Regions from separate parts of the Homo sapiens genome. Here region 2 is linked to region 1. The links come from fine-mapping of genetic effects on gene expression. A gene starts in region 1. The other region holds a variant in brackets. All regions are shown on one strand. Distances are from middle to middle.

What was found. PIP is the estimated chance that this variant, and not a neighbour inherited with it, causes the effect.
Region 2: its variant is fine-mapped to the expression of HES4 in monocytes after LPS (Fairfax 2014, PIP 0.95).

The regions. Positions count from the first base shown.
Region 1 is chr1:996,304-1,004,613 of GRCh38, forward strand. It overlaps HES4 (hes family bHLH transcription factor 4), which reads right to left and starts at 3,794. Exons shown (of 4, transcript NM_021170.4): 1 at 3,563-3,794; 2 at 3,389-3,484; 3 at 3,223-3,310; 4 at 2,661-3,129. The coding sequence starts at 3,670. The coding sequence ends at 2,756. RefSeq lists silencers at 2,760-3,069, 3,620-3,759, 3,830-4,209, 4,310-4,359, 5,437-5,786 and an enhancer at 5,837-5,976.
Region 2 is chr1:973,094-981,403 of GRCh38, forward strand. It overlaps PLEKHN1 (pleckstrin homology domain containing N1), which reads left to right. Exons shown (of 16, transcript NM_032129.3): 12 at 93-233; 13 at 407-547; 14 at 740-958; 15 at 1,223-1,271; 16 at 1,349-2,772. The coding sequence ends at 1,482. PERM1 (PPARGC1 and ESRR induced regulator, muscle 1) reads right to left here. Exons shown (of 4, transcript NM_001394713.1): 2 at 5,788-8,080; 3 at 3,406-3,531; 4 at 2,105-3,176. The coding sequence starts at 7,936. The coding sequence ends at 3,079. Among named protein-coding and RNA genes, the nearest start is that of PERM1, 4.8 kb to the right of the region's middle. The variant A/G (reference allele first, on the strand shown) is at 3,122.

The DNA of each region.
Region 1 (8,310 bases):
CACAGGATGCAGGGTGGGGAGGGCAGAAAGGCCCCCCCGCGGGAAGAGGCACCCCACATCTGGGGCCACAGGATGCAGGGTGGGGAGGGCAGAAAGGACCCCCCGCTGGAGGGGGCACCCCACGTCTGGGGCCACAGGATGCAGGGTGGGGAGGACAGAAAGGACCCCCCGCTGGAGGGGGCACCCCACATCTGGGGCCACAGGATGCAGGGTGGGGAGGGCAGAAAGGACCCCCCGCTGGAGGGGGCACCTCACGTCTGGGGCCACAGGATGCAGGGTGGGGAGGACAGAAAGGACCCCCCGCTGGAGGGGGCACCCCACATCTGGGGCCACAGGATGCAGGGTGGGGAGGGCAGAAAGGACCCCCCGCGGGAGGGGGCACCTCACGTCTGGGGCCACAGGATGCAGGGTGGGGAGGGCAGAAAGAACCCCCGCTGGAGGGGGCACCCCACATCTGGGGCCACAGGATGCAGGGTGGGGAGGGCAGAAAGGACCCCCCGCGGGAGGGGGCACCTCACGTCTGGGGCCACAGGATGCAGGGTGGGGAGGGCAGAAAGAACCCCCGCGTGCCTAAGCAGGTTCTGGTGGGCGTCCTGGCTGGGTGTAGGCAGAGGCTGGCTCCCGGAGGCCCGAGGGGGGCTCTGAGAAGGGGGCGGCCTGAGGGGGAGCCCAGGACAGCCCCTATGCTGCCCCCGTCCAGCCCGGCCCCTCAGGCTGTGTTTCCTGAGACCTCGCTAGTCTAACCCAAACCTCCCAGCTCTGTCATTCAAAGGGATGGATTAGGTCCCCGTGGGTCCATTTCCCTGTTTTGGGTGCTGAGGACAGAGCTTCTGGACAGACTCAGCCCTCGCCCTCTGGAGCCCCGTCCAGCTGGGCCCGGATGATGCACCACCCAGCCTGCGGCAGATGGGATGGACGACAAGTTAGGAGGAAACAAGGGGGAAAAGCCAGGGGGCAGGTGGTGTGGAGCACAAAGGAACCCAGACTGCGAAGGGACTGCCCAAGGACTGTGATTCCCCCAGAACCTGAGTGGTCCCTGGGCAGCTATGCAGGGCCCTTTCGCCACAGTGGAGAGGGCATTCAAGGCCAGAGCCTGGTGGAGAGATGCCCTGCCCTCTTGGGACCCACAGCCCGGGTGACTTTGTGGGGTGCCTCTCTTACCCTGAGCTCCTCCCCACACTCCCAGCTTCGCTGCCCCAGGCCCTCCTTCCCCTTCTGCACTGATGCCTTCTCTGAGCAACTCCCCTCCCCCGGCCACGCTGAGCTTCCAGCTGCCCCCAAGAAGACCGTCCCTTCCTGTGCTGCTGAGGAGGCCTCCCTCACGGGGTCTCAAGCTCCCAAGGGGAAGGGGGCCTCCCTCACGGGGTCTCAAGCTCCCAAGGAGAAGGGGGCCTCCCTCATGGGGTCTCAGGCTCCCAAGGGGAAGGGCTACTTTGAGGCTCTCCTGGGACCAGGACCCCCAGAGTAGGACTGCTGGGGGGACCAAGGGTGGGACCCCCAGCCCAATGCTACCCCGCCCAGGGTCACTGGCCTGGCCCTCGGAGCTCAGGGAGGGGGCAGGGCAGCCAGGGGCCAGGGGTGGCCTGGCTTGTTGGGCCTGGGAGGCTCCTACAAGCTGTGCACGGCTGTGTCCTGGAGGGCCCAGGGGGGCTCCTGATGGAGGCACAGACTGGGGCCTGGAGGGCCAGTGCTGGTGGGAGGGCTCGCTCGCCTCCCGTGGGCCCTGGTGAACTCGGCCCCAGTTGGGAAATGGCCCTGGGTGCGGCTCAGGGGGAGACCCTCTGCCTCGGCTGAGTGCCTCGAACTGCGCCGGACCCCCCCGAACGCGGGACCGGGATGGCGACCGCGGCGCTGGTTCAGGGGAACGTCCGGCGCTGCCTGGTAACTCGGTGGTCGACAACGGCACGTGCTCGGGACGATGAGGGAGGAGCCCCCAGTCCTCACCCACTGGGGAGGCGGAACCTCCCTTACCGGGGCAGGGGAGGCTGCGGGCAGGGCCGACGCCCTCGTGAGCGACGTCCTTGGCCCCGGCACTCGGTGTCCACAGCCCAGCTCGGACCCGCGCGCTCCCGCCGGGCGCCCCCCGCACAGACGCCTGGAGGAGGGGTCTGCGGTGGGCACGGGCAGCTCTGCACTTAACAGGAGAACCCAGCGGGGGTCTTCAGGGCCAAGGGCGGCCGCCCTCATCCCAGCGCCGCTCAGGACCGCAGCCTCCGCCTTCCGCGGTCCGGGGACTGGGAGTCGGGAAAGGGGCCTCCGAAAAGTAACTTGCCCGGCGATGCTGCGCGACCGCCTTCCAGCACCGGGAAGATTCTGGGCACTCAGGGACGTTGAGCTTCCCACCTGAGCCTCCGGGGGGACCCCTCACAACCGCCACCGCAGAGCGAGGCAAACCCAACGCGGGGGCAGAGGGCGGGTGCGCATGCGGGGCTGCAGGGATGCGGAGGGGAGGGCGCGGAGCGGAGGGCGCGGAGCGGAGGGGTCGCCCTCAGTCCTCGGTCCCGCCCCCAGCCCGCCCCCCCGGGCCCGCCCGACGCCCCCAGCCACCTGCAGACCGCGGCCCTGGGAGGAGGGCGGGACCCCGGCGCGGCGTGGCTGCGGGGCGCTCCCAAAGTCAACTCTTCACCAAGACAAAGAAAGAAAACTCGTGACGCAGACTCTGGAATAATAAATACGTTTTCTCTGCTACAGTCTCGGCAAAGGCCACGGCCCTAGAACGGGGCGCCGCCTCCGATGCAGTCTCAGGGCCACAGCCTCAGCGCAGCCACGGCCTCCAGGGCCCACCCGGGCCCTGCGGCCCCGCCCTGGGGGCGGCGGGCAGCGCCCGGGTCAGACCCGGCAGCAGCGGCGGCGCGAGCAGAGGGAAGGGGCCGCCGAGCGATGGCAGCAGCGGGCGGCCCGCGTAGACCTCGGGCGCTGGGGCCTCTGCGGGGGCAGCCGGGGACAGCGAGGCCGGGCGGCGGGAGGGTCCCAGCTGGCGCAGGCAGGCTGCCAGGTGGCCCAGCAGGCGGGAGCGCACGTCGGCCGGGACGCCCTCGCAGCCGGCCAGGAAGCGGTTCACCTCCGCCAGACACTCGTGGAAGCCGGCGCGGTACTTGCCCAGAACGGCGGGGTCGGCGCTGAGCGCGGCTGCGGGAGCGACACAGGAGGAGAGGTCGGTGCCGGGTCCCGGGGGTCCCGCGCCCTCCCCCCGCCTCCAAGCCGCCGCCGCCCGCGCCTCACCCGTCACCTGCACGCGACGCAGGCTCCGCAGGTGTCTCACGGTCATCTCCAGGATGTCCGCCTTCTCCAGCTTCGAGTGGCGGGAGCTCTGGGGGCGGGGATAGGCGGGAGGTCCAGGTCAGCTGCGACCCAGACTCCGGGTCTCGGGCCTTCGCCCCCGACTTACCTCTTTTCTGAGGGCGTCCAGGATGAGGGTTTTGAGCTGAGCGAGGCTCTCGTTAATACGCGCTCGGCGCCGCTTCTCCATGACCGGCTTGGAGGACTGCGGGTCGGGCACCGGCTGAGTCCCGCGTCCCTCCCGCCCCCCGGTCGCCCCCCTCACGCCCGGCCGGGACCCCACCTTGCGGTGCTCGGCCGCGCTCCGGGGCTTGTCTGGGGTCCGGCTGGCGCTGGCCGGCGCTCCTGCCATCGGCGAGGCGCTCGGTTTCCCCGGCGTGTCTGCGGCCATGGTGCGCCCCGCGCCTCCCCGTGCCGGGTGGAGCGCGCCGCCACGGACCACGGGCGGGCTGGCGGGCGAGCGGCGAGCGCGCGGCGATCCGAGCCCCTAGGGCGGATCCCGGCTCCAGGCCCGCGCGCGCCTCAGGCCGTTTCCCTATTTAAGGCCTCGCCGCCGCGGGGTGTGTGAACCCGGCTCCGCATTCTTTCCCACACTCGCCCCAGCCAATCGACGGCCGCGCTCCTCCCCCGCTCGCTGTCAGTCACGCCTCGGCTCCGGGCGCGGCCTCCGCGGGCGACAATGGCATGCGGGGCCCCCGCCCGCGCCCCCCTCCGACACCGCTGGGGACAGGGCCGGGTGATCCCGCGCTCCCCGATGCAGCCGGGGCCGAGCAACGCGCCGGGAGGGGCCGCTGGGGGCGAACGGGGCCCGGGACCCCCGGGGCTGGGCGGAGTCTCGGGGCTCACTCTCCCGCCCAGGGGGCCGGGAGCCGGGGCTGGACGGAGCTGGGGCTGTGGCCGCGCGGGAAGTCGGGAAGGAAATTCCCCCAGTGGCGCAGGGTCCGGCGGCGCCGAGGGGTGGGCGAGCCTCGGTCTCGAGCCTCTTGGCTTCCTCCGCCCGTCCCCACTCCGGTCCCGGTTTGGGCCCTGCTCGGTCTCCGAGTTTGATCCGACACCGGCTCGGCCTCCGGGGGTCCCACCCTCAGGTGTGCGGCCTGGAGCACGGAGGGCTGCAGAAAGCCTTGGGAGCGACAGAGCCGGGGGAAGGTCGGCGGCCGGGTCGGCAGGCGGGAGGGCGGAGTCAGCGGACGGCGAAGGGGCGCACGGGTGGCCCCGCAGAGCAGGGCCGGTGATGGCGCGGGCCGGGCCGGACCACGAGGAGCAGAACGTGCGCGTGACGCGAGCGGGCTGGTGACGTCACCAGGCACCCGGGGCGATGACGCAAGCCTGCTGGGATGACGTCATGTGGCCCGTGTCGCCACGTGCTTCCAGGTGACCCGCTGGCGAACTCAGCAGCAGCAAAGTGGGGCTCACAGAAAAATGAGGGGCCACTGTTAATATAACTGCAAAGGGGCAGGTTGCGTAAAACAGGGCTGTGGTTATTTTCGTGTTTGCTGTTTTTATTTCGAATGCCGCTGCGGGGCACGTTGGTCCTTTCCGCACTCGGGGTCCCCGGCGGCCTCACGCGTCCGTGCAGCGGAGGCTTCCTGAGCCCCCTGGAGAGCCTGGCCTGGGCCCGGGTGTGGAGACCCTCCCGGGCTTTCAATCCGGGCAGGAGGCAGATGGCAGACTCAGCAGTCACGTAAGAGAACCGAATTAGGTGGGTGGCCTGGGTGGACAAAAGCCTTCTTGACGCCGGGTGGTCCCAAAGGCTTCTGCGGGGTGGGGGGTCCTCAGGGGGGAAGCCTCAAGGGAGGGCGTGGCATTCCCAGGGTGCGAAGGGGGCGCAGGGACGAGGGAGGTGGGGAGGGGGAGCTGGGCCAGCGAGAACCGGGAGCTTCTGGTCGGGGAGGGAGTCGGGGAACTTTTTGGGGAGCTTTTCTGAGCCAGGGAGTCGGCTGATTGGCAGGTTCGCCCCTGCCCGGGCACCTGGACCCAGGGTTTCTGTGCGGAAGCTTCCCCTCCCCTCGGACCCCACGTCTAATCTGGCCCCAAGCAAAGTCCTGCGGCCCACGCGGGAAGGCGCCCTCTTCGCGGCGCTGACCCCGGCCCTCCGCGGTGCCCCTGAGGCGCCCCCCACACCCCGCCGCTTGCACAGGGGCGCGGGGGGCTGCGAGGCCGGAGCGGGGGTGGCGCCCTCTCCGCCGAGAGGCTGTCCGCGCCCCTCGCCGACTGGGGAAAGCCGCGGGGGCTGGGCGGGCGTCTCGGAGGTGGCCCCGCGAGCACTTAAGCCCCGGCTCTCCTGCCCCGACCTCTCTGCGCGCGCCTCGGCGCTGGAGAGGCTCGGACCGGCCCCGTAGCCCAGGAGGTGGTGTGGATGGTGTCCCCGTCCCGCGTCCCTCCCCGGCCTGAGCGCTGGGCCCGGGCGGGAAAGCCCGCGAGCGCCCCCAGTGGCCGCAGTCGCCGCCGCCTCCTGCTGGGGGTCATCCCAGGGGAGCTGCCGGCCTGAATCTCCCCAGCCCCTGGGCCCCGGCTTGGGAAGAAATTTGGGGGGGCTCTGGGCCTCCCCCAGTCCCTAGACAGGCAGGGAGTTCGGGATGGAAGGAGGAGCCTGAGGATCGTTTTTATTTATTTTTTTTTTGTAGAGATGGGGATCTCCCTATGTTGCCCAGGCTGGTCTCGAACTCCTGGCCCGAGACGATGCTCCTGCCTCGGCCTCCCAACGTGCTGGGACTACAGGCGTGAGTCTCCTCCCTGCCAAGCGTGGCTGGGACTGATCATTCCCTCACTGGTTTTTAGATGGGCTCACTTCCCCTCCTTGTACCTGTTTTCTCATCTGTAAAAGGGAGCTAACTTTTTTTTTTTTTTTTTTTTGAGGCAGCGTCTCGCTCTGTTGCCCAGGCTGGAGTGCAGTGGCACCACAACCTTTGCCTCCCGGGTTCAAGCGATTCTCCTGCCTCAGCCTCCCAAGTAGCTGGGATTACAAGCATGTACCACCACGCCCGGCTAGTGTTTTGTATTTTTAGTAGAGATGGGGTTTCACTGTGTTGGCCAGGCTGGTCTTAATAGGAGATTCTACTTTTTTTTTTTCTTTTTTGAGACGGAGTTTCACTCTTGTCGCTCAGGCTGGAGTGCAGTGGCACGATCTGGGCTCACCACAACCTCTGCTTCCTGTATTCAAGCGATTCTCCTGCCTCAGCCTCTGGAGTAGCTGGGATTACAGGCGTGTGCCGCCACACCTGGCTAATTTTTGTATTTTTAGTAGAGATGTAGTTTCTCCATGTTGGTCAGGCTGGTCTCAAACTCCCCACCTCAGGTGATCCACGCACCTCAGCCTCCCAAAGTGCTGGGATTACAGGTGTGAGCCACCGTGCCTGGCCAGGAGATTCTACTTTTAAAGCCACTGACGGCGTCCAACTCATAGTGAGCACCCACGCCCATCTGCCAGGGTTCCTGCCCCTGGGCAGCAGCTGGGGTCCTTGCTGAGCAGAGGCAGGAGGGGCCACCAGCACTTGCCTCTGCTCTTCTGGAGAGGAAGAGACCCCCCTGCTCCCTGCCCCCTGCCAGGGAGCCCACTCCAGGATCTCCGGGGACTGTGTTCCTCCCACCTTCTTTGCCACAGGACAGCTCCCATCTGTGTGTCTGTCTCTCTGGGTCTGTGCCCTTGGCCTCTGATGGTCCCCTCCCTGCCTCTCGAATCTGGCCTCGATTTGTGGTAGGGGCCTCAGGGTTCCTGAGGGCCTTGGGGTTCCCTTGCTCTGAGTGTGGGGGTGGATCCTGGGCTGCAGCCCAGGATGGTGCCGACACCTGGGTTGGGGGCAGGTTGCGTTTTTCAGAGACGGCCGTGATAGTATCTCCCATCCCCATATCTTGAAATGCCTTCTACATGAGACTCTGTGACAGTCTCAGCTGGGAAGAATGGGGTGTTTGGCAGGACATGACTTCTGAGGCTGACTTGGAAGACGCCATGCGTACCTCGCTGTCCTGGGACAGTCGCTCTTGGAACCCAGCTGCCGTGCTGGGAGGGAGCACGCCCTGGCCTCAAGGAGAGGCCCCGTGGAGGAATCAGCATTGGATTCCAGACTCCTGAGCAGCTTCCGGCGCAGGTCCCAGCGCGCCCCGTTCCAAGGCTGCCCGCACACAGTAGGGTGGTTGCTGAGCGTGCTGTTTTGGGGTGGTTTGTGGTGCGGCACTCAAGACTGGAATAGTGGAGGTGGGCTGGGGCCCTGACCCAGGGAGAGTGACCCTTCCCTCCTCACCCCTGCTCCCTCCTCGCTGATCCCTTCCTCTCTTCCACAGAGGCAGAGGCTCAGCGACTTCCCCACCCCTCCCCCCCATCTAACGGGTGCTTCTTGGGAGCCACTGAAATCCAGCCGACCTCCTGGCCCTGAGTGGGTCAAGCTCCAAATGGCGGGTGGCCCCGGGGCATCTGCACAGCCCCCTGTTAGCTAAGGGGGGTGACTGATGAGGACATTCACACGCCAGTGGGGAGACTGTGGGGAAAACCGGGGTGTCTTCTAGGCTGGACCTGGGGGGGCCTCAGCCTTGTTGGGGGGTCTCCTCACATTGGGCCACTGTGGCCGCACTCCATGACCACAGCCAGTGTCCCCAAAAGGCCTGTGAGGTGCTGGCTGTGACCTCCCCTCCCAACCTCTGACCCAGAGGTGGCGGCTGCCATCTCGCCACGGCCCTCAACACCCCCCTCACACACTGACTCCTGACATCAGAGACCTGTAGCCACCCCCTGCAGGTGGTCCTCAGCATGGTCCCCAACTCCTGCCCAGGGCAGCGGGCTGTGCACTCAGGCAGCTGGGGCCAAAGCCACCGAGGAACCAAGGCTGGGGTGGGGGTGGGTTTCTCTCCCGGAGAGCCGAGGTGGGCGCAGAGCTGTTCCTGGGTGTTTGCTGGGATTGTAGTGACAGAAGGCCAGGGCTGCAGGAATCCAGGCTGCCAGAGAGAGACCAGGACTCAGGCAGAAGCAGCAGCACCAGGCTGGTGCCACTGCCACCCCACCTGCATGCCTTCTCAGCAGCGGTGGGAGCTGTGTCTCCA
Region 2 (8,310 bases), 23 kb before region 1:
AACTCAGACTGGAGGGAGCCCCTTGCAGCCTCAGAGAGTTGCACGGGAGAGGGGCCAAAGGGCTCTTCCTGGAAGGTTTGTGGTCCCCACAGGACCAGGCCAACTCTGACCGTGCCAGCATTGGCCGACGGAGGACCGAGCTGAGACGCAGTGGCAGCAGCCGGTCACCCGGGAGCAAGGCCCGGGCAGAGGGCCGCGGCCCTGTCACCCCACTGCACCTGGACCTGACCCAGGTGGGCCCAGCACACCCACACAGCCCCTGGCCTGGTTCCCACCGTTCCGCACCACTGGTCTCTGTCTCTGGGCCCAGTTGTCCTGGAGCCACCCAGAGGCCTCTTGCACAGAGAAGGGGTGGCCTAGGCTGTTTCTAGCCGAGAAGCCCATTTCTCCCACCTCTGCCCTGCAGCTGCACAGGCTGAGCCTGGAGAGCAGCCCAGATGCCCCTGACCACACTTCGGAAACATCACACTCGCCCCTCTATGCCGACCCCTACACACCACCCGCCACCTCCCACCGCAGGGTCACAGATGTCCGGGGCCTGGAGGAGGTCAGGCCCCTGCTGGGTGACAGAAAGGGTGGGAGGTGCCTGCAGCCTGAGGCTGGGGAGGTCTAGACCGTGCGTCTCACCCTGGGGTCTGGGGCTGCCCCAAGCCTGAGGTCTGTTCAGGCTCTGATGGGAGGTTGAGGTTCTGGGGGCCCCTGGCTGCCACCCAGGCCCCAGCCCTGGCTCTCCCTGCAGTTCCTCAGTGCCATGCAGAGTGCACGTGGACCCACGCCCTCGAGCCCACTCCCCTCGGTGCCTGTGTCTGTGCCTGCCTCTGACCCTCGCTCCTGCTCCTCCGGCCCCGCTGGCCCCTACTTGCTCTCCAAGAAGGGAGCCCTGCAGTCCAGAGCCGCTCAGAGACACCGGGGCTCAGCCAAGGATGGGGGGCCGCAGCCCCCAGACGCCCCTCAGCTTGTGAGTAGCAGCCCCCACGCCCGTGTGCCCCGGGCTCCGGGCTGGCCGGGGGTCTGGTGTGGGGCCTCTTGGGACTCTGAGGGAGCAGGGAGGGAAACAGGAGGACGGGGGCAGATGGAGGCCAGGGGGGCCAGTAGGGAGTTGGGGAGATGGGACTGGGGAGGGAGAGCAGGGGGACATGGGGGGCTGCACAGTGACAGGCCGCCTCCAAGCTCCCTGCCTGGGGCTGTGCCCGGCTCTCAGACTTGCGGTTTGGGGTTCCAGGTCTCCTCTGCCAGGGAAGGTTCGCCCGAACCCTGGCTGCCTCTGACAGGTGAGTAAGGATCCTGCCTCCTGAGGTGAGTGCCTGTTGCCTCCCACAGGCTGACACATCTCTGCCTTCCCTACCAGATGGTCGGTCCCCCAGGAGGAGCCGGGACCCCGGCTACGACCACCTCTGGGACGAGACTTTGTCTTCCTCCCACCAGAAGTGCCCCCAGCTTGGAGGGCCTGAGGCCAGTGGGGGGCTTGTGCAGTGGATCTGATGGCCGCGGTGAGGTGGGTTCTCAGGACCACCCTCGCCAAGCTCCAGGGTACCTGCCCCTCTAACCCACTTCAAATTACAAGTCAGGGTCTGAACCCAGTGTGATGGGGGGAGTCTCTGGGGCCCTGAGTTCAGAGCCCGTCCCTCAGCTCCTGTTCCTTGGTGCCAGCAGCTGGGGCAGGGAAGGGTGGGAGGGGCCCCATCCAAAGGATGCCCTGGCCAGCGAGGCTGGGTCACAGGTCAGGGAGGTCCTGGCCGTCCACAGGGTCGGCCCTCAGCTCAGCCCGCCAGGAGTCAGGGAGGAGACTCGCTGGGAGTGGGAGGGCAGCACGGGCGTGAAGGTCGGAGGACAGAGAAAGGTCAGCAGGGTCAGAGTATGTGAGGTCAGAGGGCATGAGGGTCACAGGTCAGCAAGGTGTGAGGAGCACAAGCCAGGGTGCCCCGAGGAGGAGGGTGGGTGGGTCCTTGTGTGGCCTGGCGCGCACCACAGGGCAGCACGGGAGACGTTGACACCACCGGACGAGAAAGAAAAAAGAGAGAAGAGAGAGAGGAGAAGAGAGAAAAGAAGAGAAGAGAGAAGAGAAGAGAAGGAAAGAGAGAGAGAGAATAAGAAAAGGAAGAAAGAAAAAGAAAAGATAGAATTTTATTGGTGCTGCATCCATGTGTTCTCTGCTCAGCAGCCAGGGTCTCCCACAGTCTTGAGGACCCCCACCCAGCACCCAGCCAGGCAGCCCCCTTCCTCTGCCACCTCGGGCCCCTCACCGACCTTCCCACCTCATCTCTGACTCCTCTTGGCTGTGGGTCCCCAGCTGCCCCACAGGAGCCCCCGGGACAACCCCAGGAGCCCAGCCCTCCATCTGAGGCCACCGAATTCTCCCTCTGCACCTGCACCCAGGGCTCCCGGGGAGGGGCTCGCGGCTCTGCCACAGACCCCCACCCTGCAGGGGCTGCTGCACTGGGGAGGGGCAGGCAGAGCCTTCGCTGTCTCAGGCCAGAGCCCGCAGAGGCCTTGGCCACAGTCCTTTGAGGATCAAGAGTGATGGGCCTTGGAGCCCTTGCCAGCCCAGCCCACCTGTGAGGAGGCTGCCCATCCCCTCTTTGAGGCCACCCTGTGTCCTCTCCCCTGCCTCTGCCCAGAGCTCCAGCCGGAGTGTCTTGCTGCTCAGACCCCTCCGAGGTCCAAGTCCTGTCCTGCCACTCAGCTCCCCCTGCACCCCAGAAGAAACGCAGGGTGCGGTTGCATTTGATTTCAGATAAACAACAACTTCTTAGTAAAATGACCTCCCCACTATTGCCTGTCTGAAATTAACCGAATGCCCTGTGTTCTCATCTGTGAATCTGGCCACCCTCCTACCCAGCCACCTGCCTGCCCTCCACCCACCCAGACTTTAGCACCTCCCTCCCAGGCGTGGGGAGTGGCCGTGGTCACTGGCTGGATCCTCAGGTGAGTCGGAGGGAGCAGCACCAGGACACGCCCCCCTCCTGGACGCGGTAGAAGAGAGGGGTCAGAGGGCCCGGGCGAGGGCGGCACCTCGTCCTGCCCTGGGCGCCTGTGGTCGTCTCCTCATCCTGCATCTCCCTGGCCCGGGCCTGGCTCCTAGGAGCTGGGGCTGGGGCTGTGGCTGCGGCGCCCTTGCCCC[A/G]CCTGCCGGCGGAAGTAGCGGATGGCAGAGATGGTGCCGACGTTGGCCAGCAAGGCTGCAAGAGAAGCACAGGCTCTTCTGAGGGCCAGCCTGGCTGTCGGCACCGTCTGCCCGCAAGACCCAGCCCTCAAAGGGCGGGCAAGGTCGGTGCGGCCAGGGCCGCAGCTCAGCCTGGGGGGAGCAGGTCAGGGGTGAGCCCCGGGGCCCCCGTGCACCCCTCGTCCTGCCAGCGCCCCTCGGTCTGGCTTCTAGGCGCAGCTCCCTCTGCCCCCAGGCACCCAAACCTGTTTTCCAGGCGTCTGGGGTATGCGGATCTGACGTCCTCACAGCCCAGGTGGCAAAAGCTACAAACACCAGGCACATGTCATTCTGGCTGAAGGCAAATGATGGGACAGGCCCCCGGAGCTCCCCTAGGACAGAAGCTCACCTTCAGCCCCACGGCTGCACTCAGAGATGGCCCCGCACACGCCCGCCCCGGGAACCGCCTGCCCCCACCCCCACCAACCCCGGGAACCGCCTCCCACTCCCCCCGCCAACCCCGGGAACCGCCTCCCACTCCCCCCGCCAACCCCGGGAACCGCCTCCCACTCCCCCCGCCAACCCCGGGAACCGCCTCCCACTCCCCCCGCCAACCCCGGGAACCGCCTCCCACTCCCCCCGCCAACCCCGGGAACCGCCTCCCACTCCCCCCGCCAACCCCGGGAACCGCCTCCCACTCCCCCCGCCAACCCCGGGAACCGCCTCCCACTCCCCCCGCAACCCCGGGAACCGCCTCCCACTCCCCCCGCAACCCCGGGAACCGCCTCCCGCTCCCCCCACCAACCCCGGGAACCGCCTCCCGCTCCCCCCACCAACCCCGGGAACCGCCTCCCGCTCCCCCCGCAACCCCGGGAACCGCCTCCCGCTCCCCCCACCAACCCCGGGAACCGCCTCCCGCTCCCCCCACCAACCCCGGGAACCGCCTCCCGCTCCCCCCACCAACCCCGGGAACCGCCTCCCGCTCCCCCCACCAACCCCGGGAACCGCCTCCCACCACCCCGCCAACCCCGGGAACCGCCTGCCCCCACCGACCAACCCCGGGAACCGCCTCCCACTCCCCCCGCAACCCCGGGAACCGCCTCCCGCTCCCCCCACCAACCCCGGGAACCGCCTCCCGCTCCCCCCACCAACCCCGGGAACCGCCTCCCGCTCCCCCCACCAACCCCGGGAACCGCCTCCCGCTCCCCCCACCAACCCCGGGAACCGCCTCCCGCTCCCCCCACCAACCCCGGGAACCGCCTCCCGCTCCCCCCACCAACCCCGGGAACCGCCTCCCGCTCCCCCCACCAACCCCGGGAACCGCCTCCCGCTCCCCCCACCAACCCCGGGAACCGCCTCCCGCTCCCCCCACCAACCCCGGGAACCGCCTCCCGCTCCCCCCACCAACCCCGGGAACCGCCTCCCGCTCCCCCCACCAACCCCGGGAACCGCCTCCCGCTCCCCCCGCAACCCCGGGAACCGCCTGCCCCCACCGACCAACCCCGGGAACCGCCTCCCACCCCCACCAACCCCGGGAACCGCCTCCCAATCCCCCCAACCCCGGGAACTGCCTCCCACCCCCACCAACCCCGGGAACCGCCTCCCAATCCCCCCAACCCCGGGAACTGCCTCCCACCACCCCCAACCCCGGGAACCGCCTCCCACTCCCCCCGCAACCCCGGGAACCGCCTCCCACCACCCCGCAACCCCGGGAACCGCCTGCCCCCACCGACCAACCCCGGGAACCGCCTCCCAATCCCCCCAACCCCAGGAACCGCCTCCCAACCCCCCCCAACCCCAGGAACCGCCTCCCAACCCCCCCCAACCCCAGGAACTGCCTGCCCCGGGAGCCGCTTCCCCCGCAACCCCGGGAACCACCTGCCCCGCACACGGCCGCCCCGGGAACCGCCTGCCTCCCCCTCCAACCCCAGGAACCGCCTGCCCCACCCTAACCCTGCACACTCTTGGCCTGGGAACTGCCTGCCCCGCACACGCCCGCCCCGGGAACCGCCTGCCCCAGATACATCCATCATGGGACATGTCTGTCCTAAGATACATTTGTGCTGGACACGTCTACCCTGGACACGTCTTCCCGAAACCCCTCTGTCATGGACACGTCTTCCTGAGAACTGGTTGCCCCGGGAACCGCCTGCCCCGGGAACCGCCCGCCCTGGACGCGTCTGTCGGAGTCACATCGCCCCCGTGCTTCTTCTGCCTGAGATTTGGGTGACCTGGTTGAGTTGGGCCAGTTTGGGGGAACTGCCAGTGGAGGCCCCGTGTTCTGGTCTGTAAAGCATCTCCCAGAGGACATCAGTGTGAGATGGGCCTCGTAGAGTGCCTGACCCTGAAGGTAGCCAGGCCTGGGCGGGAACCCTGCCAGAGGCTGGGGGAGGGACGCCGCCGTCACATGGGCCCGAACACAGGGCAACGGCGGCGCAGAGCCAACCCCCTGAACAACCCGGGTGCTTGGACTGGGCCGCCCCATCTGGACTGTGTGCTGGGATGACTGGGGGCTGGTCCCCAGGCTCCCCTGCTAGGGGATGACCCAAGCCCGGCCTGCCCGGCCCCTGCGGCCCCCTGCTTGGCCAAGATCCCTGGACAGTGTGTGCCTGGGATCTGGACGGGCTGTGGGATCCGAGAGCACGTACCTGCCCGTCTAAGAGCCAGGTGGAGCCGCTCTACCACGGCTGGCTTGAGGGGGGTCCCAGGCCCCGCCCCCTCGGAGGCCGACCGGGGAGGCTCCAGGGCCTGCAGTGGGAGCGGGACAGCCGGCCCCAGCACGCCCTCAAGCCTGTCCTCCCCGAAGAAGAAGTGTTCATAGACCTCAGGGATGGAGATGGGCACGGGGTCTCCAGGTATGGGGGCCGGCACAGGATCAGCTCTCGGGAGCGGCTCCGGGGACCCCCGCCGCCTCGACCTCTGGGCTCCAACGTCTGGGAAGAAGAACTCGCACATGTCCGGCCACTGGACGCCTGCCGGATCCTGACCGGCCGCTGCCGCCTCAGCCTCTTCGTTCTCCTCGATGGTGTCACAGAAGAAGAACTCGTAGGCCTCCGGGAGGGTCACGGCAAAGCTGCTCCCGGGCCCGACCCTCGTCACGGCAGAGGGAGGGGGGCGAGGCAGGTGCTTGAGGATCCGAGGCTGGTGGGGCCGGGGCCCGACAGCCACAGCCTCCCAGGCTCCGGGCCCCCCGTGGGCCCCAGTTGCTGTCTGGGGGGCTGAGGGCCGGGCTGAGGCCTGTCCTGAGCCTGGCTTATTGGGGCTGGGCCCAGCCACGGAGAAGCGCACTTTCTTCTTCCTGGGGACTTGGGTGAGACCCAGTGCGGGTGCCCCAGAGCAGCATCCGGGGGCCCCTGCTGAGGGCTCAGACACAACCGCCTCCATCTCCACCACATCAGGCCCAGCTCTGCGGGTGGGAGGCCAGGCGAGGCCAGCGGCGTCGGCTCTGGGAACAGGTGTAGACACAAGCCCGCTGGACTCGGTCATCCTCGGCACAGCCTCCGAGACAGGTGGAGATGAAGCCACCTCTAGCTTAGCCACTGGGCCTGCTGTAGGCAAGGCCACATCCAGGCCATGTTTGGAGGCAGGTGTGGACACAGCCACGTCCGTGTCCAATTGTGGCTTGGAGATGGGTGTAGACAGAGCCACACTGGACTGAGGCTCAGAAGCTGGTGTAGACACAGCCGTGTCAGATTGCGGCTTGGAGGCAGGTATAGACACAGCCATGTCCCTGTCAGGTTGCGGCTCAGAGGCAGGTGTAGACACAGCCATGTCCGTGTCAGGTTGCGGCTCAGAGGCAGGTGTAGACACAGCCATGTCCCTGTCAGATTGCGGCTCGGAGGCAGGTGTAGACACAGCCATGTCCCTGTCAGGTTGCGGCTCGGAGGCAGGTGTAGACACAGCCATGTCTGACTTAGCCCTTGAGACATCTGGGAGGGCTTCCCAGACAGTCGTGGACACTGTGTGCAGCTTGGCTCGGCGCGGGGTTCTGATTTGGTCTGTGCCTTGCTCTGTCACAGGGACAGGTGTAGACAGGCCCAAACCTGGCCCTGGTCTGTCTTCCTGCACAGGGGACCTGGGGCCAGGCTCAGGAGCTCCTGCAGGACCTGGCCCCAACTCCTCCTGCCCGGCTTTGGCCATCAGCTTTGCCGTCTCAGGACTGGCCGCAGGGAGCAGCGGGGAGCCCGTCTGGGCAGAAGCAGAGGCTCCTGTGTGCCCACCCCCCTTGGCACCCACAGCTCGCCTCTTCTTTCGGCTGGGGCTCCGTGGTGGGGCTCCAGGGCTATCGGGGGGCCTCTGGGAGCCAGTGCTGTGGCCAGGGGACTTGGGACTCCCAGGGGGCTCACCAGGGGGCCGTGGGGCAGGGCCCTGCAGAAGCCTCTGCATCTGGTCTCCAGAAGACGCCGGACCAGGGCAGGATGAGAACTGGCTGGGAGGGCTGGCGCCGGGGCCGAGGGACGGTGGAGCTTCTGCCCGTGCGGACGTGCTGGGTGTCTGCTGACCGGTCCCCAGGGCCAAGACAGGCTCACCCTGAGACCTGCTGACCGGCTGCTGTGTGGCCACGTCCTCCTCCTCGCAGCCCCGCCGGCTCCGCCCTCCTGCAGCTAGCTGCCCAGTTGGGAGAGGTGGGGCCCTGGGGGGACTGCTGCCACTGCTGTCCCCTTGGTCAATGTCACTGGACAAGAGCTCGTCCCCAGAGGCCAGGCCGGCCTGCAGGAGGCCACACTCATCGGCGGTGGCTGAGAACTCGGCCCAGTCCTGGTCACTCAGCTGGACGCTGTACTGGAAATTTTCCATGTGGAGTCAGCAGAGGCACTGGAGGGTAGCAGAATGGGTCCGGTGGGGTCTTCATGGGTTCAGGCCCCGGGCACCACCCTGCACATGCCGCCCCTGCCCCACGAGACCTGGGAGCTCCCACCGCCTCGGGGCTCCATCCATGCCCTGAAAGGAAGAGAACAGCATCTCGAGGGGAGGGCCGCGCTTCCTTCAAACCTAGTGGTGACGATTTCCAAGTTAGAAGATCCCCAGCTCCCATGACCCTAGTTCCCAACGCACCCCAAATGATAGCTGTGTGATGATGCGGTGTTACATTCCTAGAATCAAGGATGATTTTCTACCAGTGAAGCTATAAAACCAGCCGTCCTCAGGTTTGAATGCTCTTTCCCATCACA